Homo sapiens: one gene and its partners. The protein of the gene in region 3 interacts with the protein of the main gene of each other region in a pairwise test. Each region holds a gene or a part of one and is shown on either strand. Other genes may lie near its edges. The genes, in order: ERRFI1, TBC1D22B, ACBD3 and TBC1D22A.

Evidence for each region.
Region 1: the proteins of ACBD3 (region 3) and ERRFI1 interact in a two-hybrid assay, tested with the Homo sapiens proteins (one study listed by BioGRID).
Region 2: the proteins of ACBD3 (region 3) and TBC1D22B interact in binary tests that used the Homo sapiens proteins (3 or more experiments, as listed by UniProt).
Region 4: the proteins of ACBD3 (region 3) and TBC1D22A interact in binary tests that used the Homo sapiens proteins (3 or more experiments, as listed by UniProt).

The regions. Positions count from the first base shown.
Region 1 is NC_000001.11:8,015,862-8,023,616, forward strand, and holds part of ERRFI1 (ERBB receptor feedback inhibitor 1), read right to left. Parts: intron 4,213-7,755; exon of another isoform or gene 1-4,212.
Region 2 is NC_000006.12:37,330,772-37,333,470, reverse strand, and holds the end of TBC1D22B (TBC1 domain family member 22B), read right to left. Parts: intron 2,428-2,699; coding exon 2,299-2,427; 3' UTR 501-2,298; downstream 1-500. UniProt on the Homo sapiens protein: May act as a GTPase-activating protein for Rab family protein(s).
Region 3 is NC_000001.11:226,143,766-226,149,083, forward strand, and holds the end of ACBD3 (Golgi resident protein GCP60), read right to left. Parts: intron 4,304-5,318; exon of another isoform or gene 4,238-4,303; intron 3,057-4,237; coding exon 2,845-3,056; 3' UTR 914-2,844; downstream 1-913. UniProt on the Homo sapiens protein: Involved in the maintenance of Golgi structure by interacting with giantin, affecting protein transport between the endoplasmic reticulum and Golgi. Involved in hormone-induced steroid biosynthesis in testicular Leydig cells.
Region 4 is NC_000022.11:46,757,784-46,765,920, reverse strand, and holds the start of TBC1D22A (TBC1 domain family member 22A), read right to left. Parts: upstream 3,272-8,137; 5' UTR 3,135-3,271; coding exon 3,073-3,134; intron 2,180-3,072; exon of another isoform or gene 1,635-2,179; intron 1-1,634. UniProt on the Homo sapiens protein: May act as a GTPase-activating protein for Rab family protein(s).

The DNA of each region.
Region 1 (7,755 bases), about 220 Mb from region 3:
ACACTAAAAATGATTTTTTGTGTAAATGCTAATCCAAAAGACATGAAATGTTTTAGTGAAATGAGAAATAATCTATTGCCAGCAAAAGCAGACCTCCTACTGCACAGCCTGAGAGTTGCACAACAAATCACACTCACTTGGCAATGCACACAGACCCTCCCCTGACTTATTAAACCAGCCTTCTAAGTTACGGCTGCACTGGGCATGAAGCACCAGTGGATCCTGCTTATTTTTCCCAAGCTAAAAAAGTAATTTCAGAAGCCACTGTATTTTATGCTGTAGAACTAATACTCACTAAAACACAATGCTGAAACTAAGCAAGAGTTTCTACAGTATTGGCACCTGACTACCCCAGGGTCTAGCATTTATCTGGATTTTGTATTTCAGGGTTGGCCATGGGGAGACAAATTCTCCAGTTACTACTTGTTCAAGGAACAAACAGTAATATATGAAGATACTAATTTCCATTATCCTGTAAAAATCAAGTTCTGCAAGATTACTGGCTTCAGTAAAAGCCTGGGACAGCTTCCTCCCTCCCTTTTAAAGACAAGTTAAAGGTACATTCTTTACATCCTCCTTTGTGAAACACCCAGTAACTCATATCTTGCTTAGCTGCAAGGCATGGATAACAAAATAAGTACATTTTTCTTAAATTAGTAGTTCCTCAACTTCAGGACCGCCAATCCCCTTTGTCAGATGTTACAGGTCTGGAGTCCCTATAGCCCCCTTTTCACTTTCCTTTTTTATTATTCGTTATGTGTTAGTCAGCATCAATCTCTGCTGTCTTCAGATAGCCAAGTTTATTTATAAGTTTAGGTTTTTTTCCTTAGGCACCAGGATATTATTTGTCAACTATTGTGTAACACTGACCCCTTTTGGGGGCACGTACATATACACTCTTTAACACGATCTCATTCTCTCACTAAATATTAGTAAGGGATCAGTGCAAATAATATCTGCACAGCTGAGTGCTGGGCACTGTGCAAAGGCTGGGCACTGTGCAAATGTGACACATTTGCTGTGGGGGAGAGGTACACAGGTTTTTTTTTTTGTTTTTTTTTTTGCTCAGCAACTTCAAATCTATTATTTACAAATCTGTCACCTCCTACTAGACTAAGCTCAGGACAGAGGCTGTGTCTCAATCACCTTTTAACAATCAGTACCTGGAACATTAGTAGGTGCTCAGTAAGTGAATGTTTGCTGAATGAATGATTGTATAATACCATCTAATTATCATAATCAGTATCAACTCAATATACACATTGTGTAAGGCACAGGGTTTTTTTTTTTAAAGCTAAAAACTTTTAAAAAATACTCTGCAAGTGTTTATTATTATTTTCCCATTAGAAAGGAACACAGTGATAAGTAATGTTCTACAGGTTCAAGATTTCAGTAACAAAGTAGAGAAGGGAGATCCAATGACTGGTTCTCTGCATTTTACCCTTCCACAGTCAGCTGTTCTACCAGGCAGAGATTTTATGATAGGGTTAAAATATTATTTCAGATAGTCAAGCATTATTTTTCTTTAAATCAATCTCTCAAATATATGATAAAGAAAACATTGTCATTTAAGAATTCTAATTGAGAGGTCTTTTGAGGATTGGTTTTTCAGATTACTTCAATGAAGCAAATGTGTTATCTACCATCAAGCTATAAAAAATTTAGAAACCAATTTAAAAATACTGCTAGCCTCTCCCTCTGTGTACTTAGCCCAGTGGTTTATCAAGCTTTTTCTAAGCATTCTACAAGCACTGGCAAGACTATGAGGAAAGTATCTGTGGTAATATAAAAATGAAAGGCAAGATAGGAAGAATATGGTATTTAAGTAGTTTGAAAGCACACGTTTGAAGATCGCTCATCCAGATTACAGGAAAATGCTGCAGGGGATTCTGCAGGCCCAACCCCCACCTGTCTGCAAGCCAACAAGTACTACTAGTAATTACTGTGTGTCAGCCTCCTAATGCCATCTAAATCTTAGCTTTCAACAGAATGATTGTGTAACTATCGCCTCTGCAGAAATTGCCTTGGAATTCTAAACTTACATTTCAATGGTCACTTAAAATTATTTATATGTTCTAGAAAAAGTTATTTTTTATTCATTGTTTCCATCACCTACTTGTTAGCTTTCTTAAGAAAAAAATTTTTTTAGTATAAAAAGAATTGTGTTCACTAAGCCAGCTCACTTCTGACCACAATAGTGTCTTTGTGTATTCATAGAAGGTGACCTGCCTCTAAATTTCAATGGGGAATTGTGAATGGGCCATGTTATGAAACTGTCCGAACTTCCTACTTGCTAGCATGGGAGACGAGGGGGGCAATATAACTGCCATGTTCTCTTCTTTTGGAAAATAACTTCAAACTGTAGACTCAAAAAGGGCAATGTGCTATAGGTTTGGAAGGAAGCTTTTAAAAAAAATGTTTCTCAGATTGTAAACTGAGGGTATGAAACCACCTGAAACTTTCTCTCTCTCTAAAAACCTTCTAGTATTCAGCACAAATGGAAGCGGGGGGCGGGGGGGGGGGGGGCGCGGAGTAAATAAATCCATTTTACCAACCTCAAGCTAAAAAGAAACAAACTCTTCCCAAGTGATGTTTAATGCCAATTTTTCACATTTTATCTGTCTTACAACTCATTAGAGGAAAACAATTGCAAAAATGTACCTATGTGGGGAAATCAGTATCTAAAAAGTACAAGATGGGATTATGTTATGGAATCCAAGAATAGGAAAGCGAATGTGAATCCAGACAGCATGGTTTAGACGGGGACCCAAATAACCTTCAGCATAACTTCTCCAAACTTCATCAACTATTTTTAGCTTTTTTAGTGGGTCTAAAATGCAGTTAAATACCAAATTTCAGATGTGAACCACCTTTTCCTGTTAACTTGATTCTTTTCTAAATTCAACGAAAAAAGAAGCCCTAAAATCATTTGCTTCTTGAGGTTATCCTTTTATTAATCCACTTGTATAGCTTCAACTCATAGACAGCTCCTGAATCAATGACTCCAGCCTGGCTCAAGCTTCAACTTTGCATTTCCTATTGTCTGGTGATTATCTTTCCACTTGGATGGCCCTCTGGCATCTCAAACTCTACAAACCAAACTCCTCCTTTCACTTCATACTCCATTCCCCACTCCCCAAACCAGTTCAGGGTCTAAGAGGATCACACTTCTCAAGGCACCATTTTTAACCTGAGGCCATGTACATTCAATTGCCAAGTTCCACAGACTACTTTTACATGGTTTCTCAAATCTTACCCTTCCATTGACAGGCATCATTCTTCCTGGGGTCTGGCAATATGCAACCTATTCTACAACACTAGTACCAAGTCAATATTCCTTAACAACAGCTCAAGCTAAGATTTGCTGCTGCTCAAAAAACCTTCAAAGGCTCCTAAATAAAACCTCCTCAGCCTGGCAATTTAGGGCCTCCACAATATAAACCTAATCTATATTTTCAAGCGCGCTTCTATTTTCCCCAAATCTCTGTTACAATTCGATTCATCCTTTAAGGTCAGCTCTACCCTGCCTTCTCCATGAAGCCGCTCCCTTTCATGAAACACTGGAGCAGCGGTGCTCTGTTCTTGTGTTATTTTGTGCTGGGCCCCAATTCCCCTTCCACTCTTCAAATCATCTAGGACAGAACTGATGTCTGATTTATGCTTTCCCCCTGTAGATCTTGGCATCATTCATGTCTATTATTTATTAAATGGATACTGAGAAAATATCCATCTCATTTTTAAAAAGTAATGACATGAAAGATTCACATACACTGTGAGTCAGTGAAGAGCTCAGGGGAGAAGCAGATTTATAAAGGATAAAGTTAATGCGTGCTGGAGTGAGGCGACTGCCCAATAATAATGTAACAACCTTAGGATATGTAACAGGAAGGAATTTTTATGAAATTCATTTCCAGAATTCAAAGAAGACAGTTTGTAGACTGAGTAAAAATTATAAGCTTCAGTGGTTAACAGTGTAGCTTTCTAAACTGGTTTCTGTTACAGTATATTTACTTGAAGCAATTGGGGGGGTACTTTCTTAAAACAGTGTTTTGCCTTCTCTTAAAACACTATTCCTTCTAGACTGTGTTTTTGCTGCTGAATTTAAGGTGACTTTCATTTTTCTAAAAAAGTTACACCAAAAGCACACTGCACCTTCTTCATTAAGGTGAAATCATATGCCTTTAGCTTGAGGACAGTCTCTTTGAAACTGCTTAAAAAAAAAAAAAAAAGAAAAATGCAGGCTACCTTAAGGCAGTAACCTAGATATGCTTACCTGGCCACCAGATCTCATTAATAAATCTCAGAAGCCATCCATGGGAGGAGGAGGGGCACATTTTTGTCATACAACTCATCCAGTTCTGCCCAGTGCTTCCTTATTTAAGAGTGTGATGTAATTTCCTCCTTTCAATCTGGTTCTAGAACCTGATTTCTGTTTATTCAGGGTGATAAATGGTCTTTTCAGTTCCATTTAAGAATCACCTACATTAAGTACTTCCATAACCAAGGAAGATAATAAGGTAACTACATTTAAAGGCAAAATTTATAAAAGGAAACTGATTTAGGAATATGACAAACTCCATGATTTTAGATCCTCCCCAAATATACCAATCTCTGCATGTTTATTTTTTAAAATGTCTAAAATAATCACCTGTGAGGAAATTAAAACAAACAAACAAACAAAAAAACACCAATTTTTTTTTTTTTTTTTTGAGACGGAGTCTTACTCTTGTCACCCAGGCTGGAGTGCAATGGTGCACAGCACAATCTCCACCTCCCAGGTTCAAGCGATTGTCCTGCCTCAGCCTCCCGAGTAGCTGGGATTACAGGCATGCACCAACTCGCCAGGCTAATTTTTGTATTTTTAGTAGAGATGGGGTTTCTCCACATTGGTCAGGCTGGTCTCAAACTCCTGACCTCAGGTGATCCTCCTGCCTCGGCCTCCCAAAGTGCTGAGATTACAGGCGTGAGATACCACGCCCGGCCCAGATTTCATTTTAATAGCCTATGATTTAGGTAGGGGTAGGAAAAGAAAGAGGGAGGCAAGTTAAGAAAACTTCCTTAGTTGTACTCTCTACCATGGTAAGCATAAGTAGCCTTTAAATTAAAAACATAGATTACTTTTAAAATAATGCCATGTTTTAATGTAATTAAAATACTCCTGCATGAATTCAAGAAAAGCTTGATGGCTTCAGTAAACATTAAAATATAGTTCAGTGTGGCAAAGATGAACATTTGTGTCTGTGTTTGCAGCTCCATTCCTCAGAGGCTCTTAAACATGTCCAGAACATAATGGACCATTTGTAGGTGGTGAAATAGAGGCAACAGAGAAAATAATTTATCTTCAAACTGTCAAATAAAAAATAAATGACGTAATTTATTCAATAATTCAGAATGCTTTCTAGCTAAGTATTTTAAAAAATGGTAAACTAACAAAAAACCCATTCCCTCAACTACCATAATCCAGTCTTTCAACTCACTTAAGCCTCCCACACAATTTTAGTGTGACAGCAGAAAAGTAGGATAGCAGGAATACATTCTTTTGTCCTTTGTATTTCTCCTACAGAGTAGCACAATCAGTAACTATATATACACACAGAGGGGAGAAAAATATTATTTCTTTTTGACATATAACAATAGATTATTTCTTACTATAAAAGTGAATTCTAATCTAAAGACAACGAGCACAATGGTCTAATGATGGGACGCAAGTCTTTAAAACTTCAAATTTATTTAACAAGCATTTAAGTTACCCGATGGGTAACTCTAGATTGTTACAATTAATATAAAACCATTAATGATAACTAACATTCACTGGACATACAACTGCCAGGCAAGCATGGTTCTAAGTGCTTTATGTGTATGAACTCATTTAATCCTCTCTACAATGCCATAAGGTGGGCTACTATTATTACTCTCACTTACTTGAGGCACAGAGTTAAAGAACTTGCTCAAGGTCAAAACTGGTGAGCAATGGGGCCAGGACTTCAACTAGACAGCCCGGCCTCAGTGTCCAGGCCCTTCACCAACACACCACACTGCCTCTTCCTGTCCCTACGGCTTTTTAAACTGGCGAAGTAGGATCCGACTGACTATACTGCTCAACTTGTAAGGGTAGCACAGATCCTTTTTTATGGATTTACTGGTAATAGTTTTTCTTGGGTAACCTGTAGCCTATGAAAGTTCCTGTTTCACTTCAACTCCCTCAAATTCTCCTATTAAAAGTTATTAATTGTAGATCTGGCCTATGTATCCTCTAAAATGGGTGGGTTAAGGCATCAATTTGACATTCTATTACCACTTCAAACAACTATTTTGAAGCCCTCAGTCTTTAACGATCCACGGATGCCCCACCACAACAGAACTCTTTACAACATGGTTATTTCATATAACACAAGTCTGTTTTTACTCGTAATAAGCGGTTACTACATATACCCAACGGGCCTCCTTTTAACATGCTTTCACAGCATGGATCCCAATGATGGCATTATAATCACACTGTATTGTAAAATCCGGAATTTAACAATAGCATACCTTATATTTGTAAAGCACTCAACAAGTTACAAAGCACCTTCTTACACATTATCTCACTTGATCCCCACAACATCCCTGTAAGAAGAGGCAGGGATTAGAATCTCCATTTTGCAGATGAGGAAACAAAGTGAGGTTAAATATCTTGCTATAAGCAAAAGGGCGATCATGGCTCTTCTGTACTATAATCCAGCATTTTCCCCACACTTTCACTACCTCTCCACTCTATAGTATCTTCATTTTAGGCAACAACCTCATTTCTCCTTGTAACATTCTTGTTTATAAATGGAGAAACTGAAGCAAAAGGCTGTTAAGTTAAATGCTCAAGACCTAAGTGCTAGTCAATAGCAGAGGCAGGAACAGAAACTCAACTCATAGTGCTCATTCAGCTCAAAAATTCTTAGAGGGCAAGGATTAATTCTTTTCACAAATATTTATCAAGTGCTTATTCTGGATTAGACACCATGTGAGGTGAAAAATAGAGATGGCTGCTGCCTGAAGAAGCCTTCCATCTAATGAGGGAGGAAGAGAATAGCCAAGCAAGCAAACAATTTTAGATGGCGATACCTTCCAAGGAAACAAGCAGGGTACAGCAGCAATAGGATAAGGAGGCAGAGGAGCATATATTTACACAGGTGGTTTGGGAAGGCCTCTCTGAGTAGGTGACTTTTAAATGGAAATCTAAAGGCTGAAAAAGAGGCAGCCCTGATAAGAGTCAGAAGACAATTCTACTGAGCGAATAGTTGTTTAAAAAACAATCTGTAACTAGTCCAGTTTCACATCTGGGGTATTGAATAAGAGCTTTTGGATAATGTCTTCCAATCCTTACCTTCCTATTGTTTCCAAGTTGAAAAGGGCTCCATTTCTGTAGCCAAAGCCCCACATTTTTTTGTTTGTTTATTTTTTAAAGACAGAGTCTCACTCTGTCACCAGGCTGTAGTGCAGTCGTGTGATCTTGGCTTACTGCAACCTCTGCCTCCCAGGCTCAAGCAATCCTCCCACCTCAGCCTCCTGAGTAGCTGGGACTACAGACGTGTGCCACCATACCCAGCTAATTTTTGTGTTTTTTTGTAGTGACAGGGTTTCACCATGTTGCCCAGGTTGGTCTCATACTCTTGGGCTCAAGCCATCTGCCCGCCTTGGCCTCCCAAAGTGCTGAGATTACAGGCCTGAGCCACTGAGCCCGGCCAAAAGCCCCACATTTTAAAGACACATTCATTGAGACCT
Region 2 (2,699 bases), on a different chromosome or scaffold from region 3:
CCTACATGGCGGCCATCTTAGTTCTTTCTACTCTGGTGGAAACACACTGAACAGGCAAGCCAGGAGGACACCGGGTCTCTGGTTCTGACTCTGATGCTGTCTTCCTTGGCCTTGGCTTGGATTTTCCTCTGCGAATGAGGGGGTTAAACTAGATATCTCCAAGTTTTCATCCAGCACTGAAATTCTAGTCTGTTTTCTACCCTCTATCAGATAACATACTTCTTTTAGATGAATGAAATAATCCATGTAAAGTGCTTCTCAAAGTGGTTGGCAAGTTAACTCTTTTTAGTAGTTTCATTTACCAAGTTACTCATTTTTGTAGTTTCCACAGTACCTTTCATAGATGGATGTCGGGTAAGTGTTTGCTGGTTGATCCTCTGCTGATGCCCTGCTCACCTCACAGAAGGCCTGACCACACACCTACTAGTATCAGCAAGAAAAACTCAAAAAGAGGAGACTCTTTAGGTTCCATGGACACATACAGGAGAAAAACCAGCAGATGGAGGAGGAAATACACCATTTATTTACAATTCTTTTCACTTTATCCACAATTTCCCATACAAACATAAAAACTAAAAAAATAAAACCACCACTTGGGAACACAAGTGTCTTTCTTTAATTAGTCCGGTTGAGGGAGGGTCTCAAGCCCTCTCACTCTATGAAGGAGACCACTGAGGCACACCGAAGGGGAAAAGGAAGAGGGTTGGGAAGAATGCCTGAGAAACAGCTCCAGATGAGAAACCTAACTCACACCGATGTGGTGGGGCCTCACTGGCAAAGAGACTTGAGGGTGTTACCCACCAGGGACACTGCTCGGCTTCCCAGGAGGATGACAGCTGCTGGCCCCCATCCCCCCACCCTCCACTACCAAATACCAAAACTCAAACAGGGGTCACACATCTCATGAGCTGTGTGGGGAGTGAAGGTGACAGTAAGGGATATGGAGTGCTGCTCTCTGAGAAGAGCCCCAAACCCGAGGGACACACAAGAAGCCCCTTTCCTTGGCACTGAGTCTTCAGTCACAGCTTCTGTCCGAATACAATGCTGAACTTGAAAACGTAAAAACAAAAGCCCTCCCCAGATTCCGGGGAAGGTGGGGATAAAAACACATAGAGAGGGCTTGCCCGCCTCTGCAGTCCCTTCCTGGGGAGGCTGCTAGGAGCAAAGGGCAGATGCTCCAGGAAAGTCTGGGGGTTGGGGGGCGGGGTGAAGAAAGGGGCGAGGAGGACTCTGAGACACTGATGCTTGGGATGGCTCCAGCTGCTCAGCTACTCACTTCAGCAGCCTCCCGTTCTACCCCTCACAGCAGGACACCCAGAACCAACCTGGAGGTGCTGAAGCCACCTTCCTGGCAACTTCCTCTGTGCTAGTGACCTAGATTGCTTTCACATGTTGATGCACATTATAAATATAAAATCATATCTGCTACAAAGAGGACATATATTTGTACATCTTTACCCATATACATAATAACACAATTTACACATAATATCTTGGAGTGGGTCATCATGGAAAAGGGGTCTGGAGAGCCCCTTCTGCCTCCCCTGCCCCAATCCCTCTTCAAGGGATGCTTATACACTTGGTCACTGGGGCCCTTCCCAACTAGTTTGATGGGGCTCGTCTGGACACAGAAATTCAGACATGTGACTAAATGCTGATGGGCATGTATACACATTCACACCCACACACACATGCAGACACCTGGTGAGAAAAGGAAAAATAAAATTCCTAGCCCTTGGGTGTAGGCCTCTTTCCAGAGTTACAAGCATCAGTGCCTCCTCCATCTAGAATAATGGTTTTAAAAAGCTACCCCTCACTGGCTCAGACTGGGGCAGAAGGGGAACGGCTAGGAAACCAGGAAGAGGGAAGAGGGGCCAGGAGTCTTTCGAAAATATAAGGCGTTTTTGACCTGTGATCAAATCAAACTATGTTCACAAAAAAAAAAAAGCAACGGTTATCAGTTGGGGCCTGTCCTTGTAGGGACAATGTGAGGTGAGACCCTGAGCCTTCCCCTTCTTTGTCCAGTTTCTTTTAAAGGGGCAGACAACCCTGTACCACCTTTTCTGTCCTCTCCCAGAACTGGGCCCATCCACGCGGCATGGAATACTGACAGTGGTCCAAGTGACACATCCAGAGACATGGAGTGGTGGATGCCAGAAAGTTAAGACCTGGGCGGTGGGTGTGAGCTTTGTACAACAGGAGTGGTTCCTGGCCGGGGTCCACGGCTCGCACAGTGGCCACAGTGATCAGACTGCCATCAGAGATGAAGGCAGTCTGGGTCCCCGGAGGAGACAGCACCTATCGGCGGTAGTGATTTGGGGCATCGGCAAACATGTACTTGAGTCTGTATGCCTCGGCGAGAAGCAGCCCAATTTCTTCGTTGCCCCAGTGTATTGTAGGTAGGTTCTGTAGCAGCATGAGGAGACCCTGGAATGCAAGAAAGGACTTTTATATCATACCAGACCGTAGACCATCAGACAAGTGAACCCATTCTTAGAGACCAAGGCCTAGAATGGGGCCCCTTCCTCCTGGCTCACACATCTCAAAGAGTCCAGCCTCCTTCCTCCCAAACAGTACACAGCTTTCAGTCCTAGTTCACCTCAGGAGGTCTTGAAAGCCTCTGCTGATTCTCTAGTCCACTAACACCTGTCTCTTTAAAAACATAAAAAACATAAATAGGGAATGACAACAATAAAGAT
Region 3 (5,318 bases):
AGGTTCACACCATTCTCCTGCTTCAGCCTCCCGAGTAGCTGGGACTACAGGTGCCCGCCACCACGCCTGGCTAATTTTTTGTATTTTTAGTAGAGATGGGGTTTCACCGTGTTAGCCAGGATGGTCTCAATCTCCTGACCTCGTGATCTGCCCGCCTCGGCCTCCCAAAGTGTTGGGATTACAGGCGTGAGCCACCGCGCCCGGCCCCTGACTGTTGAACTTTAAGCCCTAATGAATTATTAGCAATTATTTATTATTTTGAACCGGTTGCTTCTCCTGCTCCAAAAGATAGATGGTCAAGACTCGGTAGCATACTTTCCAAGATGTGCTTACCTCAACTGCTCTCCTTAATGCGTCTTCAGTCTGGCTTTATGGTATCCCACACAGCAAAAATAACCAAGATGGTCACCTCATCTGTCTCCCCAGATTTCAAAAGAAAAAAATTATGCCAGTCACCCTGCCTATCAGTGGGGTCATCTGGATGTAGCAACCTCATTCTGGGACTCCACATCACACTGATCGCGCACTTCCCCACAAGTGCTCTGCAATCATCCACCCTGAGCAAGCGAGGGCTCTGCCTCTGGAGATCCATTAAAGTGTGTGGGGTCCACATATTTAATGGAACACACTACATACATGGTAGTGTAGAGAAACAACTTTATAACCTAGTCATTTTCAATAAGAAAAATCAGTGCTAGCCTTTGCATTTAAAAGTGTGGAAAAATTTAAATCTATTTTAACTCACTAAGGTAATTAATAGTAAAACTAAATAATTGGCCAGAAAGAGTTGTTTTTCAACTAGAGCCTTTTAAAACAAAAAAGATGTTTGAAACATTTCTTTTTCTCCTACCCAAATGTTGAAATACTGTACTAATGCTTCAGAGAGTAACTATATTAATGAAACATCAACAAGTTACAGATAAACATTTTAATTGATTAAATATATTACTTTCAAGATCTTTTTGAAATCGCACTTGTACTGTACTAATCAACAGCCAAAGGCAATAAGAAAGTTTAAAACCAAAAATATTCTGACATGAACACATGACAGGAACCGCTGCTATGTAAAGTAACATACACTGCTCCCAAGAACAATGATATTTTTAGGAGATAATTCATCTTAACATGTGCAAGGACAAATTTGTAATCAAAGGCTGGAAGAAATATATATTAGTGCCTGCTTTTTAAAAGTTTATTTTACATTTTAAATACAGTATTTTTCTCATAAAAAAAAAATCCAGGAAGTGCCTAACTCCATGGTTTCTATACCATATGTACATGAAAGCTGACAGAGAGCCTGACAAATGTTCTGGATGTAACAGTATGAACACCTATGAGCTGGGACTACTTCTGAATCAAAATTAAAAAACACAAATTAAGCACTGCTTAAGAAAAAAAAAATCCAGTTTCTGAACAACCAAAAGAGAACAGAGTTAGATATGTACAAAACCAGGTATTAAAAAACAGAAAGAAATACAGCACACAAAAAACTCAAACAACCCATATGTAGTGAACTGTATATACTGCAGTTAATGAAAACCCTCCTACAAGAAGTGATTTAGGATTTGAAATTTTAAAAATCTAAGTACTTCAGTAACAACATACAATAACAACATTAAGTGTATATTGCCATCTTTGTCATTTTCTATCTATACCACTCTCCCTTCTGAAAACAAGAATCACTAGCCAATCACTTATACAAATTTGAGGCAATTAATCCATATTTGTTTTCAGTAAGGAAAAAAAGATGTACCTCTTCCCGTCAATAAAGAAATAACACAAATTAAAGCTATAAAATTTAAGCATGGGCATATGTATTTCCAATTCTCCTTAATAAGTAATTCCAAACTGGAATAATGTGGGGTTTGTGACTAAGTAGTAACAAATTAAAAGAAAATAGACTGTCTCTGGCAGTGATTTCCATATTAGTGCAATGTTACTTCCCATATGCTGAATTATATTTAAATGATTTTATGTATTTTAATTCAGTAGGTGCCAATTTGAGTTTATAAAATCCTTAATTTTATTCTTTGTGCAGAAAAGTTTCAATTTGAGATACTCTATGAAGCCAAAACAAAACAAAACAAAACAAAAAACCTGTATTTTGCTACTAGTAGTATGAATACCAAATAAAGATACAAGGATTCAAAGTTTGTGGAAGTTCCTGAAGAAAAATCTCTGAGGTGTTCTACGTATCTTGATACTTCAATTATCAATTAGTTTTGAACATTCTAGTTTAAGATTATCTCAGAAAATAATTCTCTGTAATATAACTCTGAACTAAACAGCTGCACCCAAAGCAGAAACAATCTGGGTCATTCTGAACGAGATCAAACTGAGGCCATTTCTTTTTCTATTATAATCTGTGAGGTGTTGAGTTTTTAAGTTTTAAAAATGGCCTTTAATCAAAGCCAGCTGCACCTGATATAGACTTGTTAACTTATGGATTTCAAATTAGAGGACACTGTAACTACGGGCTCTCATAAGACACATGGAGCAGGCAGCAAGGGGCTAACCATCAGCCGGGTAAGGTCAACGTTGGGGTGTTTTATTTTGGAGACTTTAAATATTTAACATGTAGCTCATGTAACTTCAGCATCCACTAGTGACTCTGCTGGTCAGCACCCAAGGGCTGGATGAGTCTGAGGAATCTCCTTTAACCCCAAAGTATGAATGCTAAAGAGTCTCAAGGAAATTTTGATTCCCAGCAAGAGTTCACAAACCATCAGACCAATATCAATAAGGTAAACTGTGACTCTAATGCTCCACAAAAGTAAAAAGAAATTTCCAAATTAAATGTCATCTTCTGCCCAACCCTAGACTCCAGACTTTGTAACAACATTTTTATCTAGTATAATAGACTCTGTAGTAGACTGATTTTGACCGCCACAAAGAGTAGGAGTTGTCAAACTTGAGGAGATAGACTCCTCTCCCTGGATATTGATGGCTGCCAGCATACACCTCCTCATGACAGTCCCGTCGGTACACAGGCACAATCTCATCCAGCAAAGGCTTGTTGGCATTCTTTTTGGCTTTCTCTTCACAACCGATGTTTTCTGTAAGAACAGAGACAAGTCAATGAACAGATTCAGGAAAACCACACTTGCATCAGGCAATTAAAATCTATCCTTTCTTTTTTTTCTGGAGACAGAGTCTTGCTCTGTCACCCAGGATGGAGTGCAGCGGCGTGATCTCAGCTCATTGCAACCTCCACCTCCTGGGTGCAAGCGATTCTCCTGCCTCAGCTTCCCAAGTAGCTGGGATTACAGGCGTGCACCACTACATCCAGGTAATTTTTGTATTTTTAGTAGACATGGACTTTCACCATGTTGGCCAGGATTGTCTCAATCTCCTGACCTTGTGACCCACCTGCCTCGGCCTCCCAAAGTGCTGGGATTACAGGCGTGAGCCACCGTGCCCAGCCTATCCTTTCTTTGAGAAACTGCTCTTGTTGGGAATTCTGTTGAACCATTTAACAAGTTATGTGCATGTGAGCATTTATTAGTTCGTTCATTCATTCATTCATTCACTCATTCATTCAAATACCTAAGTATGTGCTATACACCAAACCCTGTTCTGAGCCCTGGGAGCCCAGTGATGAACATCTAGTGGTAGCAGTGGTCAGCATCCTATCTCTTTCTGTGCTTACTACCATTCCTATTTCAAGGTCCCATTTTCCCCTTTCCATAGCCATTCAATTCCTAATTCATCCTCAGGAATTTCACTCATCTGAGTAACATGAAAATGTTGCTCTCATCATCCTCCTTCTGACCAATATGAGTCCTCCCCATTTTAGAAAGATGGAAGATGATTTGTGAGGACTATTGCTTTCTGTATATCTTAAATATAAGCAGTAAAATGAAAAAATCATAGTAGAGAGATAGGCATTCAGAGATACTCTGAAAATTCAATTATTTTCACTAGGCCAATTTAACCCAGAGATGATCTAAGTGGCAAAAAATGGGCTCTGAAAGGTTTGCCCCGGTTAAGAGTTTTTTGAACTGTAATGCTATGAGGTTAGGAAAAAAAATGCCTCTAGAAACCTACAGGAATGAGAAAATTATGAACCAGCTTCGAAGTCACAGTTTAACATATTTAATACAAACCAGCTCAAAGAGGTCAAGGGAGTATTCAGCACAGAAGACAAGACTTTCGGGTTTATGGTTGTTGTTTTTGTTTGTTTGTTTGTTTAAGAGACTGGGACTACAGGCATGGATTTTCAGGTTTATAACATGGCAGAGTGAATTCTGGCAACACACTGAGTGATGCTTGTCAATGGCCACTATCAGGAATTTAAAACAAGGTAAGTTTGAGAAATTCTCACCGTCTATAGCAGATTAAGGAGATATGATGACTGACTATAATGTGGCATCCTGGAAAGGATCTTGGAACATTAGGTAAAAACTAAAAACATCTGAATAAATATGGACTTTAGTTAATTAATGAATCAATGTATCAATATTGTTTCATTAGCTGTGATGAGTGCACCACAGTACAATGTAAGATGCTAACAACAGAGGGAACTTGGTGCAGGGTATATGGGTACTCTTTGTGCTATCTTTGTAACTTTTCTGTAAATCTAAAACTATTCTAAAATTAAAAGTTTATTTTAAAAAAGCAGATGGCACTCTTATAAAGGTAGGTCAAAACCAGATTTACTTAACCACAGAAATACCTATAATTAAGCATGTTTCACATGCAAATGAGAAATACAGAACCATCCAAAATGTACACTATTGTTGACATCCAAGAAATAGACTGGTCCATTGATTCAAGACTCAAATTTTGTTTTAAATCTATAAAACTAAAGATTACTGGGATAGATGAAAAGGCATCTTTTATGAATTTAAGCCAAGGTTTAGGACCTGTAAACAATGAAGAAAATGGAGAATTAAAACAGGAGGATGTGTTACCATCCATGCTTCTTCAGAGAAAGCAAACTCCTCTGTCTACCTTTCAAGACCTAAGGAAGAAAAACCAAACCAAAACCCAAAAAACTCAGACTCTTCTACCATATGAAATACAAGACACGGTAGGACAGTAGCTTCTAAGGCATATGGACAAATACAATTTGTGAGCTAAATCTTTAAATGGGATGAAGTGACGCTCATGTAATGAACAATTCTTAGGAATGATAAAGCTTCACTGCTGTGAGGCTAAAATGTTTTAGCTGCAAATCATTTTATGATTAGGAATGGTACAAGTACAGGGAATGCCATCTTTCATTTGAGGGACATATTAGAACTAAGATCAAGGATATTAAGGTTCTTACCTCTAGAAATGAACCCCTGCCATTTTCACTAGTGATCTTCCCAACA
Region 4 (8,137 bases), on a different chromosome or scaffold from region 3:
CATCTACTCAGGAGGCTGAGGCAGGAGAACTGCTTCAACCGGGACCCAGGAGGTGGAGGTAGCAGTGAGCTGAGATCATGCCACTGCACTCCAGCCTGGACTACAGAGAGAGACTCTTGTCTCAGAAAAAAAAAAAAAAAAAGGAGGAAAACAAGGCCAGGCATGGAGGCTCACGCCTATAATCCCAGCACTTTGGGAGGCTGAGGTGGATGGATCACCTGAGGTCAGGAGTTCGAGACTAGCCTGGCCGACATGGCGAAACCCCATCTCTACTAAAAATACAAAAAAACAGACAGGCGTGCTGGTGGGCGCCTGTAATCCCAGCTACTTGGGAGGCTGAGACAGGAGAATCACTTGAACCTGGGAGGCAGAGGTTGCAGTGAGCCAAGATCACACCACTGCACTCCAGCCTGGGCAACACAGTGAGACTCCATCTCAAAAAAAACAAAAACAAAAACAAAAACAAAAAAAGAAAGAAAACAATCATGGGAAACAATTGAAAGAGCTGCCAAAGCCACAGGAACCTGGCTAGGATCTCCACTAGCACTGTGCTTGCATAGGTGTGGACTAAATAAATACGCAGCTAGTGACCAATCACCACTACTGATAGGAAAACGGGCACCCCTCTGTGACTCCTCCTTCAGGGAAGAGTTCCAGCCTGCCACCTGAAAGAGCAGCACTGCCAGAGGCTTGAGCCACAAGACGGATGGGAGACACAGAGGCTTCACAGGCCTTCCTGGTGCACCCAACCTCTCCTTCTTCTTCTGCCCTCTTCAGTGACAGCCTCGAACTCTCCAAGACTCCAACTTCACAAAGGTAATACAGAAGCTGCTCTCAAAAGTGCCTAAGACACAGAATAGCATCAAAGTCAGAGGAAAAGGAAAGCTGGTGTTCGGTATTTCAGGTTCACACAGAAGAAAGCTGGAGACTGTATTAGTCTCCTGTGGCTGCCATAACAAATTACCACCAACTGAATGGCTTAACACAACAGACACTTATTCTCTCTCAGTTTTAAACGCCAAAAACCCAAAATCAAGTGGTCATCTGCAGGGCCATGCTCTCTGTCAAGTCTCTAGGTGAGCATCCTTCCTTGCCTCTTCTAGCTTCTGGTGGCTGCCAGCAACCCCTGGCTTTCCTTGGCTTGTAAATGTACTATTCCAATCTCTGTTTCTGTCTCCATAGGGCCATTTCCCTGTGTGTGTCTCTCTGTATTCAAATTTCCCTCTTTTTATAAAAATACTAGTTGACGAACTAAGGCCCACCCTCATCCAGTATGACCTCATTTTACCTTGATTACTTGTGCAAAAACCCTATTTCCAAATGTCACATCCATAGTTTCCAGATGGACATAAATTCAACTCAGTATAAGGACAAATTACCAAGAGCCACAGCCTTCAATCCAAAGGTTGAGTCACTGCTGTAACTCCACACAGCAGCTCTGTTATTCTTACATCTAAGCTGATTAAGAATTAGAGTTTAGACTGATGAGGAACCAAAACCTTAAGACCTAAAAGTAACACATAAAAGTTACACTGTCATGTGGCTCCTCTTCCCTGGACTCTTATGTTCTACAGCATTTGTTCCTGTCACTACCAGGACCTCCTACCCACCACCATTCCAGAATCTTCACTCACCTTGGACCCTGACACTGGTTTTGTTGAAAGGTCTTACTGTTCTCGAATCAAGCACGGTCCTGTGGAGTCGAATAGGGTCTCCGGCCACCTTTGATGACTCCCTTCATTCTCAAAGCCACTGTCTGAGCTGTCAGTAACTCACGCTGCTAACCCCCAGATCACTCTTAAAAGTAAACTTTCCTTTTTTTTTTTGAGACAGAGTTTCGCTCTTATTGCCCAGGATGGAGTGCAATGGAACGATCTCGGCTCACTGCAACCTCCACCTCCCAGGTTCAAGTGATTCTCCTGCCTCAGCCTCCCAAGTAGCCAGGATTACAGGCATGTGCCACCATGCCCAGCTAATTTTGTATTTTTAGTAGAGACTAGGTTTCTCCATGTTGGTGAGGCTGGTCTCAAACTCCTGACCTCAGGTGATCTGTCCACCTCGACCTCCCAAAGTGCTGGGATTACAGGCGTGAGCCGCCACACCTGGCCAAAAGTAAACTTTTCTAACTGGATGCAGTAAATTCCAAAGTTTATCATTCAAACACTCAAACAATAATATTTATTATGAAACAGGAGTACAAACCATTTTACTGTGTTTATGAATGATTCTACTCAGACTTATCTTCGTAACACAATTCATAATTTTCAGCATTCCAGACTTCAGCTTTGGAACAGAACTATGTTCTGAAATCTTGACGTTTGCTTATCTCTGATCTGTTTTCACCAGTGGCTGATTTTATCCTAGGTACCCTCCACGTAATGTCTCATTCCCTAGGGCCCTGGCATAGCTCAGCGCCACAGCAATCAGACAAGGACTCTGGAGCTCTGGAGCTGTATAGCATCTAGGGTGTACCCAGGTCATTCCAGCCGAAGAAAAAAAAAAAAAAAAAAAAAAAAAAAAAAAAAACTTCCTGCTAACACAACATAGGAGGTGGTTTTGACACCAGCAAGCAGAAACATGGAAACTCACAGGGAAACTCTAGTCCTCTTCTATGCTCAAGGCAAGAGCCGCAGCCCTCAAGAGACCACAGGCAAATCAAGTGGGTCAAAAACACCACACCCCCTGCAGAAACTGATCCACCCAGCAGACGGGGGGCCTCAGCCCGGCCAGCTTCCGGACTCCACCAAACTTCACAGCATGACCCGAATCAGTTCCTTCCAGCCTCCCCAAGGAGCCCAGGAGTTTCTCGGAAAGAAGCCTGCCAGTGTCAGGAAAAACGCCAATAGCTCCTCCTCGTCCTTGCAAGCCTCGATCCTACGTGCAGCCACTGTCACCCCCAGACCCCACGCTCCGACCTCCGAGCCCCCCAACGCCCGTCACACCATCCAGCAGTCTCCTCAGAGTCCAAGTTGCCCTCTCCAGACCCCCGACTCCACCCGCAGCCCAGGAGGCCAACGCGGCCACCTGACCTCTGACCCCTGACCCCGACCTGGCCCTCCGCGGCACACCCACCTGCCCGGGAGCTTGCTGTTGCTGCGCTTCCAGAATTGCTTCCTGGCCCCGTCGCTGGCCATGGCCCCTCCTCATCCCTCAGACCCGCGGCCCAGACACCCCGAGTGCACCCGGCCCTCCCCTAGCGGCCCTTTCCTGTGCCCCGGGTGGCCCCTCACTGCTCCCGGGACTCCAGAGCCTAGAGCCGAGAAGCTCTTCCGCCTCCTTCCGGAAGTTGTGCCTACGCGCGCCCGGAAGTCCCGCCTAAGTCCCTGGTGGCGAGTGACGCAGCACTCCGAGCGCCCGTCGTTATTAAAGGGCGACGCCGCGCAACGCACGTTACACGCATCGCGGAGGGAGCGGAGGTGGTTGGGTTTCTGAGTTTGAGTCTGTCGCTCCTGGCTCTCCCGACACAACAGCGGCGCCCACCTGCCCGCAACGGACTCCCAGGAGCCTCGAGCTCCTCATTTCCAAAGCTGAACTGCCCCGTGTCTGATTCCGATTTCTCTTGAGCGCGTTTCGGAGCCGGCCCAGAACAGAGGGAAGCCAGACACACCATACCCGGCCCAACAGTGGCAGGGCGGCTGCGGGTGCTGGTCAAGCTGGGTCACCCGGCACTGAGTGACGATCAGCAAATACTCAGTGGACGAAATATTTGCAGTGCAGTGAGGTGAGGGGCATAACCGCGGAGCGTATTCGAAGAGATGAGAGAGACTGGGGATTAGGCCAGGCTTGAAGGGAAGAATGGTTTGAGCACCGAGGACAAGAATTAATTCCCCAGGCCTGGGTTCCAGCCTTGTGCGGCTATCACGTGCTTGAAACCTGGCTAGTCCGGAGTGAGATGCGCTTTACGTGTAAAATACAGGATTCCAAAGACGTCGTATAAAATAATTTGTATATTGTTTGCATGTTAGGTAACATTTTTAATGTATTGGATTAAATAAAATGCATTAAAATTATTTTTACATTCCTTTTACTCTTTTTAAAATTATTTTTACCTTTTTTATTCTTTTTTTCCGGGGGGGACTGGGGGTGGGTGTCTTGCTATGTTGCCCAGGCTAGTCTCGAACTCCTGCCCTCTAGTGATCCTCCTGCCTCACCCTCCCCAGTAGTTGGAACTGCAGGTGCACACGTTATGACTAGATCTTTTTACTGTGTGTGTGTGTGTGTGTGTGTGTGTGTGCAGAAAATCACTAAAAAAACCGTGTCTGGTTTGCATTACATTTCTGTGCTTCTTAGACCAAAGATTGAATGCTCAGGGACTGTCATTTCAGACTGGAGCTTTAGTGTATTTGGAGCTCCTGCCAGTTCTCTTTTAAAACAAAAATCTAAGACATATTTTCTGATTAAGAATTTCCCTGGAGGCTGAGGCAGGAGAATAGCGTGAACCCGTGAGGCAGAGCTTGCAGTGAGCCCAGATCGTGCCACTGCACTCCAGGCTGGGCGACAGAGCGAAACTCCGTCTCAAAAATAATAACAATTTCCCATGCCTCTTCATTTACTGGTAAGTAACATTGACTTAGTACTTACTATGTGCAAGGCGTCCTACTCTCCTAGAATCCTCTCCTAGTAGGGCTCAGAAGGCCCCAGGGGTCTCCTCCTGACAGAGCCCTGACAGCCTCAGACAGTGAGGTCCCCTACAGACAACACTGAGGACCATGGCGGTTCTTTCCAGCTCAGTCTGGCTTATTGCAAGAACCAGTGAGCGAGGTGACAGCAGGATTAACCTGATGGAAGGGGAAAGGAAGGAAGAACTGAAACAATTGACAGAGGAAAAACTGGCAGCACTTAGTGACTGGTTACACCTTAGATCCGGGTGCTTTTTATAGCTTACCGTATACTTTGCTAGCTACTGTTTTCAGGCGAAGGAGTGAGGCTGAGATTGACTTGAAGGCTTCAAAACCAGCTAAGCAAAGGATTACTAGGATCACAACAGAAACGTGAAGATGGAAAAAGAAAGTCTGAGTAGAAGGCCAGTTTTGAAAGCCAAAGTAATACAGATGTTGGAGTCTACATATGGGACCTAGGAATTGGGACAGATTCTCAAATCCCAGAGGTATGGAATGGAACATTTTTTATTCATTTTTGCAACAAGTATTGAGCAGCAATGCAAATTAAAACTAAGGACATACCATGTTACACTTAACAGATTGGCAAAAACTTAAAAACCTGTCTTTACCAAACTTAATAAGGATGTGGATTTGTGAGCAGAGCAGAACTCTCTTGCACTGCCAGTAGGAGTGTACGTTCATTCACTAACTTTGGATGGCCACTTAGCAATTTCTAGCAAAGATACTCTATAACTTAGCAATTCCACTCTTGGTATGTGCTCTAGAGTACCTTGCCTATGCGTGCAAACACAAGAATGTTCAGTGCAACGTTGCTTCTAGTGGTAGTTGGGGTCTGGGGGAGAAGCAACCAAAATGCCATCTATGGCAGAATCGATAATCTACACAGTTATGCAGTAGAATACCATAAGTTAGTAAAAATGAATACATTAGTTGCATACATCAACATAAATGAATTTTGCAAACTGTGGGGTTGTTTTTGAAATGGGGCTTACTATGTTCCCCCGGCTGGCCACAAAATCCTGGGCTCAAGTGATCCACCTCAGCCTCCTGAGTAGCTGAGTACAGATGCAAGCACTACCGCACCTGACTCCACAGTGTTGAATGAGAAAAAGTTGAATATTAATTCACATGGTATGATACCATTTAGTACTATTTTCTTTTAAAGGATGAGAATGCGACCAGGTATGGTGGCTCATGCCTGTAATCGCAGCACTTTAGGAGGCTGAGGCAGGAGGATCCCTTGAGCCCAGGAGTTTGAGGCTGCAGCAAGCTGTGATCATGTCACTGCACTCCAGCCTTGGCGATAGTGCCAAACCCTATCTCAAAAAAAAAAAAAAAAAACCAGAATGGTAAAAGATAAATTCAGGAGGGTGGTTGCCTATAGGTACAGGTGGGGACTGTGAACAGGAAGGAATTCATTCATAGCGGATCAATTGTGCTATTATGCTTTGTTTCCTAAGGCAGATGGGCTATATTCAGGTGTTGGTTATATTCTTTATGAGTTTTTACATGTATAAAATGTTTCATAATACATTAAAATATAGTTATTGAGTTTGAACTGTGCTATGCACTGAGCTACATTGAACTACATGATAAGGCAAACAAAAGTGCAGCAGGCCAGGCACAGTGGCTCACACCTATAATACCAGTACTTTGGGAGGCTGAGGCGAGAGGATCACTTGAGACCAGGAGATCAACACTAGCCTGGGCAACATAGGGAGACCCCATCTCTGTGAAACTTTTTTTTTTTTCTTTTAGCCAGTCATGGTGGTAAACACTCTTAGTCCTAGCTACTTAGGAGACTGAGGCAGGAGGATCACTTGAGCCCAGAAGTTCAAGGCAGCAGTGAGCTAGGATCACACAACTGCACTCCAGCCTAGAAAACAGTGAGACCCTGCCTCAAAAAAACAAACAAAAAAAAATTGGGATAGTATTTCAGGATGGCTGGATTTGCAATGCCATTTGGGTTCCTCGGGAAGTGTTTTCTGCTTTCTTTGCTTTCAGATGGCCTGCTCCGGGCTTAGAATATCTCTCACAGGACCTTACTGAGTGAGCTGCCACACTCCCACTTGGTGGGTTCTGCCTCCTAAGTTTCCTGGTGCTGTACCGTCCATAGGCACCGAGCCTGTGCCCCAAAGTAAAAAGCTGACTGTTCTATCTGTATTGGTTTCCTAAGGCTGCTGTTGGCAGAATGCTGCAGACTTAGCGGCTGAAAACAATACACATTTACCCTCCTACAATCCTGGAGGTCAGAAGTCCAAAGTCTTAGCACTTCACTGCACTAAACTCAAAGCGTCAGCAAGGCTGCCCCCTTCTGGAGGTTCTAGGGGAGAGTCAGTTTCTTACCTTTTTCAGCTTCTAGAGGCCACTTAACATTCCTTGGCCGACACTCCTTCCTCTGTCTGGAAAGCAGATCACTCTAATCTCTACTGCCATCATCACATCATCTTCTCTCCTTCCGATTCCTCCTAGATCCCTCTGACCTCACGTCAGGCCCACTGGATAATCCGGTCCAGGCTGATCTCCCCATCACCCGGCCCTTAGCTCAATCACACCTGCAAACTCCCTTTGGCCATTTAAGGTAACATTTGCAGGTCCCAGGATTAAGTCCTGGTATATCTTCAGGGGTTCATTATTCAGCCTACCACAATAATAGACGGCATATAGCAAAGGTCCCCAGTTTCACACCGCGAGAGGCAGGCGTCGTCTTCACTGCCCCCTTCCCCAACTCCTTTCAGCCATTTTTATATTACAGGGACTAGCAACGTGCCATTTCCTGACACTAAGTCAGGATGAGTTAGGGTGCTGTTGGTTGCAAGAATGACAAAGTTCAGCTCAAATTAGCTTATACTACAAAGGGAATTAGTTGGTTAATGAAAAAGCCCAGAAGTAGCTCAGAAGGTTTGGAGAAGGGCTGATACAGCAGCTCAACAATGACCCAAGGGGCCTGTCTCCTTCTGTCAGTCTCTTAAGTCTTTGCCAAGGACAACTTCCCCTTGAGGTCACAGGATGCCTCTGTTGGGCCCCTGGGATCATGTGCTTACCTCTAGTCAGGATGCTAGAGAGCAGAAATACTGTGAACTAGTATCAGTCCCCGGGAAGGGAGCACTATACATTGCTTACCAATTCCAGGAGAGCACACTTAAACACCTCACCAATTTCTGCTGAGTTTCCTAAGACTGCCAGGAGGCTTTGCACAAACCCAGCAGCCAGAGTTCTGCAAGGGTTCTTGACTCTGGCAGGGGCTCAAAGCTGACCTAGCTGCTGCAGCTGTCATACCTCCACCCTCTGTATTCTTTTTTTTTTTGGGACGGCGTCTCACTCTGTCACCCAGGCTGGAGTGCAGTGGCGCAATCTTGGCTCACTGCAAGCACCACCTCCCAGGTTCACGCCATTCTCCTACCTTGGCCTCCCAAGTAGCTGGGACTACAGGCGCCCGCCACCACGCCCGGCTAATTTTTTGTATTTTTAGTAGAGACAGGTTTTCACCATGTTAGCCAGGATGGTCTTGATCT